2 linked regions of the Homo sapiens genome follow. The protein of the gene in region 2 purifies or fractionates together with the protein of the main gene of each other region. This does not show direct contact. Each region holds a gene or a part of one and is shown on either strand. Other genes may lie near its edges. The genes, in order: P4HA2 and COL4A2.

Evidence for each region.
Region 1: the proteins of COL4A2 (region 2) and P4HA2 purify together in Homo sapiens (co-immunoprecipitation; one large-scale study listed by IntAct). This does not show direct contact.

The regions. Positions count from the first base shown.
Region 1 is NC_000005.10:132,193,234-132,197,042, forward strand, and holds part of P4HA2 (prolyl 4-hydroxylase subunit alpha-2 isoform 2 precursor), read right to left. Parts: intron 2,248-3,809; coding exon 2,179-2,247; intron 1,790-2,178; coding exon 1,693-1,789; intron 1-1,692. UniProt on the Homo sapiens protein: Catalyzes the post-translational formation of 4-hydroxyproline in -Xaa-Pro-Gly- sequences in collagens and other proteins.
Region 2 is NC_000013.11:110,310,111-110,313,919, reverse strand, and holds part of COL4A2 (collagen alpha-2(IV) chain preproprotein), read right to left. Parts: intron 1-3,809. UniProt on the Homo sapiens protein: Type IV collagen is the major structural component of glomerular basement membranes (GBM), forming a 'chicken-wire' meshwork together with laminins, proteoglycans and entactin/nidogen.

The sequences.
Region 1 (3,809 bases), on a different chromosome or scaffold from region 2:
TAAGGAAGACACATGTAAACAGATAATTGTATGAAATTCTGCCAGTGGGACAAGATACATGTGTGCAGGTTGCCATGGGAATAGCACCCAAGGGCATCTAATCATGCCCTTTCATGCCCATGACCTTTGATGCCCTTTGGCTCTATTCCCATGGCAACCTGCACACATGTTTCTTGCTCTTAGAGGGAAGAGGAAATCCTAGGGCTAGAATATAAAGCTACATAGAAGTTATCCTGGGAAGAAGATGGGCATACCCAGATGGTTCTCTCACCAAGAGGGTCCCAGGAGTGACAACAGGATGAGAAAGTAATCAAGGCAGAAGCCACCCTGACGTGTGTTGGGGACTCAAGAGGCCTAATATTACTGGGAGGTGGCAGGTAGAAACTGAGAGGTAGGGTGTGAGGATGAGGAAGACTGTCAGCATTGCAGAGGGCTTGGACATTAACCTCAGGAGCCGTGGACCAGCAGATCCAGTCTGTATGCCATGGGCACAAGAGCAACAGAGCTGCTGCCAGCACTATCACCCCACGCCATATCTTCAAACACACAGGAACCATGATTCTGTTCCTCACAGACTCTCTCATAATGAATAAAAATTTTATTTCAATGCACTACTGAAGTCACAGAGCTTTTAAAATATAAAGTAATAACATGTACTTCATTGAAAAAAATAAAATTGTCGCAAGGCTTATAATGATAAATAGCACTCCTCCTAAGCCTCTCCTTCCCATCCCTAATCTCCACTCCCAGGGAACATTAAACTCCTCTAGCTGTTTCTTCTGATATTTAACCTCATTTTTCTAGATAAGATGCTTATAGTTCTATTCCTTGACTTTCAACTTTGGAATTCTTTTATTCTACCCCTAAAACACAAACTCATCCCCTCCCACCTTTCCAGTACAGGTAAATCATAAGTTTTAGTTAAAGTAATACTCAGTGTGTACATAATTATATCATGTGTTACACCTGAGCCATCTAGTAGATTATACTTACATTTCCTTTCTTGTACAACTTTTTTTCCCCTGAATTCAGCAACTGCCTTGTTTTCTTTTCCATTTGCTTAATTATCTGCAAACCTATCACTATTTATCTTCAAAACTCTCCAAGGGGGCTACACACTCATCTCCTTACAAACACTTCCTGTCATATCCTGGTTTGAGCCTCTCCGAGGCTCACCACAACTGCTCCCAGGATAAGGCTCAAGCTTGAGCCTCTGCAGTTTGGTCCCAGCCTCCAGCCTCATCTTCTGGCCCCTGTGCCACAGGCCTCCCTTTCTTCAAGTGACAAGGGAGCCAGCCCCCACACCCGTATGCTGGTTTTAGCCTGTGCCTCCATCCATATGGGCCTTGTTTGCCTGAGACACTCTTTCCCCTCACTGCTTCCAGCTCTCCACTCTGCTCCCTCAGAAGCCTTGCCAGAGGGTCCTGGACCTATGGTGCTTATGCAGCTATTCGTCCTCAGGCCTTCTTCAGCTTCCTGTGTATCTCTGAGTGTTTCCAACCAGCTGCCTTGGCATTTACCAGCTGCATGGACATTACATGGCTGGATGGTAATAACAGCAGAAAAAAACCTAAGAAGGGAGACAGTCTCAGCAAATTTGGCAGCAGTTGCCTCCCAGCTCAGAATCTAAGGCCAATAAGCAAAGCCCAAGCTGAGGCCACCAACACCAACACTACCCCTTAAGACACTCACCCCACTTGCAGCCCACAAGCACAGGGCAGGCAGCATGTCTTGTTCGGTAGTCACCTTCCCCGCTCCGCAAGAGGTTGTACCAGAACACAGCTGTACCCTGGGAAAGAGATGGCCTTTCAGAACACATTCTTAAGAGACTGTGCTCAGGGACCTGACTGCAAGCATCACAGAAGCTCTGCCCTGAGCAGAAACACCCTCATTTTCCCATGGACAGGGGATAGGGCTCTGGGACTCCAGCAACAGAGACATTTCCCAGAAAGCACCTACCTTTCTGAGGTAGAAGTCTGGGAACTCACCCGCCCCTGAAGGGACTTCCCTCCCTGTCCTTTCTTCACAGGGAGAAGCTGGGCTACCAGGTCAGACCCCAGGTGGGCTAAGGCACATCACAGTGACAATCAGGCAGGCCAGGTAATGGTACTGGGGGACATGGACAAAGTAAAGTCTGAGCCTTGCTTCAACCTCTGACCCACAAGAATCAGAACTTACCTTCTTAGGCCAAATTGCAGCCCCCAGATCAGGGAAGACGGTGGCACCACCAGCTTCTACATCACTCATCTGGAAATATAAGACATAGAGCTTGACCCTCCTACCCAAGGCTCTCAGAGCAATTGAGCCACAAAGGACATGACAAGGTATATAGATTGCCCTCCTCTCAGCATGAGTGACACTACTTGGTGTCTGCTCCATGGCCAGCCCTTTAGCCAAGAAAGGCTCTTCCCATGCCTACTTAACCAGTGTGATTCATTAGAACAGTCTCCATGTCATGAGTGTTCAAGAGTTGAGGCCCACAGGAGACCCACATCCGGGCTGTCCCTGGATGAAAATAATCTGAGTCTGTACTCAGAAAATGCCTGTTCTGACCCCACCCTTTGAATCCCCATCTAGCCTTGGCCTTGCCTAAGCCACTGTACTCTGCAAAGTGCCCTGACCAGGAGCTCTGTACTGTTTCCAACACCATGTGCAGTCCCCACTGCAGCTCTGTTTCTCTGGCTCTAGTAGTTTGCTGCTCTAGTCAGACCTTCACCTTCCCAGAGTAGCCACCCTTCCTGGGGCCAACTGAGTGGAAGGGTGGGGCACTGTGTCTCTAGAGGCCCTGCTTTCTCCTATGGTAAGGCCTTAAACTACATTGAACACAAGTTCCACACTAGCAAGGCTGTACTCATGCCCACAGAGCATGCCTTGACTCATGGCCAAAGCACTACTTCTTTCCCATCTGGCTCTCTTACTTTTTTTGTCCATAATTTAATAAAAATTGGAGGTAAAAAATATTTCCACAGGACACATACCAGACTCACTGAAGGGTACTTGACAGACATATGGTAAATGAATAAGACAAAAGCTCTGATGGCTTCTCACAGCCCTGTGGATCAAACTCAGATTCTTTTCTAGAACCCCAAGGCCCTGTCAGTCTCACTAGCCTCTCTCCAGACACACCAGCCTTTTTCTACCTTTCCAACATCCCAAGTTCCTTTTCTCTTACAGGACTACATACACTCTCTCTTCTGCCAGAAACCATGTTCTACCAGCTAATTTCCACTCAACTTTTAAGTCTCAACTGATATGTTACTTCCAAAGAGAGGCCTCCACTGAACCCCAAGCCTGGGGTTCACAGCACCTGTCTCCATAACTACATAATAATCTCTCTGATGTTTAGGCTGGGCATGGTGGCTCACGCCTGTAATGCCAGCACTTTGGGAGGCCAAGGCGGGTGGATCACTTGAGGTCAGGAGCTTGAGACCAGTCTGGCCAAGATGGTGAAACCTCATCTCTACTAAAAATACAAAAATTAGCTGGGCATGGTGGTGCACGCCTATAATCCCAGCTACTTGGGAGGCTGAGGCAGGAGAATCGCTTGAACCTGGGAGGCAGAGTTTGCAGTAAGCTGAGATAGCGCCACTGCACTCCAGCCTGGGCAACAGAGGGAGAGTCTGTCTCAAAAAAAAAAAAAAAAAAAGATAAAGAAGAATCTCTCTGATGTTTAAAATAAGTCTCTCATATTGGACCTCAAGCACAAGAGAGACCACATATGTTCTGCTCACCAGCATGTACACAGCACAATCCCCAGCATGTAATAACCACACAATAAAAGCATAAAGGGAAAAAATGGACACAGGCTT
Region 2 (3,809 bases):
AGCCAGGAGCTCAGGAGACAGGGGAGGGGCTGGAACCCAGCACCGAGGTAGGAGCCTGCCGGGTGGACGCGGGGCACCGGGGTGGGAGCCTGCCGGGTGGACACGGGGCACTGGGGTGGGAGCCTGCCGGGTGGACGCGGGGCACCGGGGTGGGAGCCTGCCGGGTGGACACGGGGCACTGGGGTGGGAGCCTGCTGGGTGGACGCGGGGCACCGGGGTGGGAGCCTGCCGGGTGGACACGGGGCACTGGGGTGGGAGCCTGCCGGGTGGACGCGGGGCACCGGGGTGGGAGCCTGCCGGGTGGACACGGGGCACTGGGGTGGGAGCCTGCCGGGTGGACACGGGGCACTGGGGTGGGAGCCTGCCGGGTGGACGCGGGGCACCGGGGTGGGAGCCTGCCGGGTGGACGCGGGGCACCGGGGTGGGAGCCTGCCGGGTGGACGCGGGGCACCGGGGTGGGAGCCTGCCGGGTGGACGCCGGCTGCTCGCACGTCCTTTGAAATTCACTCTCTGGCCACATCAACAGGACTGGAGACACCTGTGAAGTCTCCCTAGAATTAGATGCCGCCTTCTCCTTTCAGGGGTAACCAAAATAAAAATTACCGTCCTCCGGAGCCACCAATGAAATCAAGAGCAGTGAGTCACTTAGGCCGTCACCTGTCCTGACAGGGTCTCATTAACTGAAGGGAGTGGGCACCAGAGGGAAACAGCAAGAGGGGACTATCCAGGAACTCTGCCCTTTTCCTCATCTCAACTGAGAAATGTCACATATTTACTGGATTCCAGAAGCTTCTCGACACCGTGAAGATAAAAAGTCCCATGTGGCATATTGATTTCTAAGCGATATCCTGGTGCAGGCTGGATAGATTCTATTCTGGAGCTTATCTGGAAGGGCTTTCTCATCCCCAGCATCACAGCGGAGACCCCGGCTCACCCTCACAGGTCTTAGCACACCTGCACAGGCCAGCCCTCACTGCTGACCTCTAACTTACTCATGGTATGTTGATCACCTGAGAGATCCATTCCACACAACATTCTCTTCCAGGCTCCAGAGCCAAAGCACGTAAAGTGTCTTGCCCTGAAGTCAGAACCCGGTTAGCAACAGGCTGGATTAGACTTTATGGCCTCTCAAGACTATTGTGTCATTCCTGGTCCCTGATTCACAAGCTCTATCAGCCAAGGCTGGGGGTTGCAGACATTGCCTCCTACCTTCAGCAGTGATCACACAGTAGACACCAGCAGACACAAAGCATGAGGCCAGTTTCAGAGCTTTCTCTAAAACCCTCTAATCAAAGACAAACATTCTTCTTCAGATAAAAAGAATGAGACATTCTCAAACCACTTTCTAGATGGTGATCTCTTCATTATATTATCAACACAGGGTTGAAAAGTTAAATCTCCATGGCACTCAGTTTTTCCCTTGAGTTTCTCTATTATTTAAACTACACATCCATTTTCTTTCCCTCTCCCCAGAAACACAATTAAACACAGTTCTTTGATTTTTATTATTTTAGCAAAATCTTTTTTCTATTCTAGAACCTTTTCCTCTTCACCTCTCTCTCTCTGGTTGTAAACATAGCCGCCTGGTCGTACAGAGCCTGTTTCCTCTCCTGCGCTTTTCGGTTTACCCTTCCTACCCACCTCTCCTTCTGGGATGCTGCTGACAAATCTCTGCTATTATTTATCGTGGCCAAGTCCTACAAGCCACCCATGGAGGAAGACTTTAACAGCCTCCAGAGAGCTGAGATATGCTTGTTTATCCACGAGCAGAGGAGGAACCCCGTGCTTTTCCCTTCTTCTCAGAGGGCCATGTTTTGAGCAATAGCGCTTCAGCTCCAGGAAATGCAGGAAAGAATTGTCCTTCCCGATCCTTACAGAAAGCTCTGGGCCTCGTGCGGCATGAACACCTCTCCTCCCTGTACCAAAGCCTGCGGAAAGGACTTGCCACCGCAGCTGCCGGCCTGGAGGGCAGGGAAGGCGGTGGCAGCCAACAGGAAGGTCAGGCGAATTTCCTGGGGCTGGAGCCCCGAGGACAGCCTGGAAACTAAGCGGCAGGGTGGCAGGCAGGGGCCCCGCACTGATGCCTACGTGAACCCACGTCTATTGTGGCCCCAGGTCCCGGCCAGAGGTCCTCAGGTGACCACCCAGCCGGCTGCATATTTGATCCCTCAGGCTGCTGCCAGCCTCTGGAGATAGGTGACAATGCTCAGAGCGGCTACAGTGAGTGCTTTCAAGCCTCCATGAAGGTTAGAATAGGCAGCCGAGGGGAAGTCCCTTAAACAGGCCCAGGGGATACCTCCTGGCACCCAGGCTGTGCCAGACCCTCCAAGGCGCTTCACATGCACCCACACACCTCACAGCACCCCCATCTATGAGGTGGGTGGGATGAGTAACACCTCCGTTTTGGGGGAGAGGAGAACTAGGACGCAGAGGCTTGGCGAATGTCCGCCCCAGGCGGCAGCCCCTCAGCTGCCCACCAGACTGAGAACTGCACCCCGTCACCTGCCTCAAGTCTGGGATGGGACCCCTGTGTCACACTGCCTTACACGAAGCCATTTTGTGCATCTTGGCACCACATTCAAACAAGGGCACCTTTAGAAAGGGCACCTTGGACAGCAGGGAGTGTGTCCTGAGGTGCCCACACAGATCACCTGGGTTCACACTGAGTCTAGAGCCCAGGCTGCCCCGTGGGATTTCGGCTTCCTTTCCTCCCTTTGGGAAGGGTCTTGCTTCTCTCCTTCACTTGCTGCCCCTGATCCTCACAGTGGGAGAAGCAGAGGAGGAAGGAGGGGGAGAGCCTCCTTCCTAGGAATCAGTGCCCGCTCCACTGTTAGTCCACGGTCAAGACCAAGAAGAAAGCACCCACACCCCAGGAGACTCAAAGACTGAAACTCAGGAGTGCCCTCCCGGCCACCTTTCAGGCCCTGGGAAGCTCGGTGTGGAGGAAGAGGCCTGGGTTCTAATCCGTCTCATTCAGTTACAAAGACAGGAACCTTGGGCGAGGGCTGCAAACCCTTTGTGGCTTTTCTCACCTGTAAAATGGGGGTAATAATAGTTACCTAGCTCATCAGTGTGCTTGCTTGTGAGGATTAGAAGCATTAGTACAGACAAATTGGCACACAGGAAGTGCCCAATAAGTAATCACCAAGGCTCTTCACTGCCCATCCTAGCTGCTTCCGAAACAAAACAAGCCAAAGGGCTCCCAGCGGCAGCCCTTTTTCCTGAACTGACCTACGCAGGAAAGAGTCCTTGCCACAATTAAGAAAAATCTTTAATCAATACAGTTGAAAATTGAAACATTATTTCACAAGGAACAGCCATTAAAGCCAGTGGTTACCAAGAAGTGAGTAAGTAGAAGACCAGCCCCTTGTTGAACGTAACAAACTACATGTCTCTTAACAACACATATTACTAGGTCCCTAGTAAAATGATTAAAAATATCTATTTTTTTTGGTTGAGTTAGAATCTAAAGCCCAGGAAAATAAAGTGAATTGGCAAGTAATCTCAACTGCCTCTCAACCCAATACTGTAGCTCAGTGGTTCCCAGATTCTGGTATCATGTGGGGAGGCGGAGTCCCGGACTCCACCCTGGAATGTCTGACCTGAAGGTCTGAGATGGGGCCTGACTTCTTAACAAGCCTTTCAGGGTTTAGGTCTGGGGGTCTAGGGGGCCTGCACTTTGAGAAGCTCTGCTGGGCAATCAATGTTCTTGGTGCCATCCAAAGATCAAAGAGTCAAAGAGACTGGGGGTGAGCTTGCAGCAATGATGAGGTTTTGGGGAGGCATAGAGGTGTCCTATCTGCCTTAGG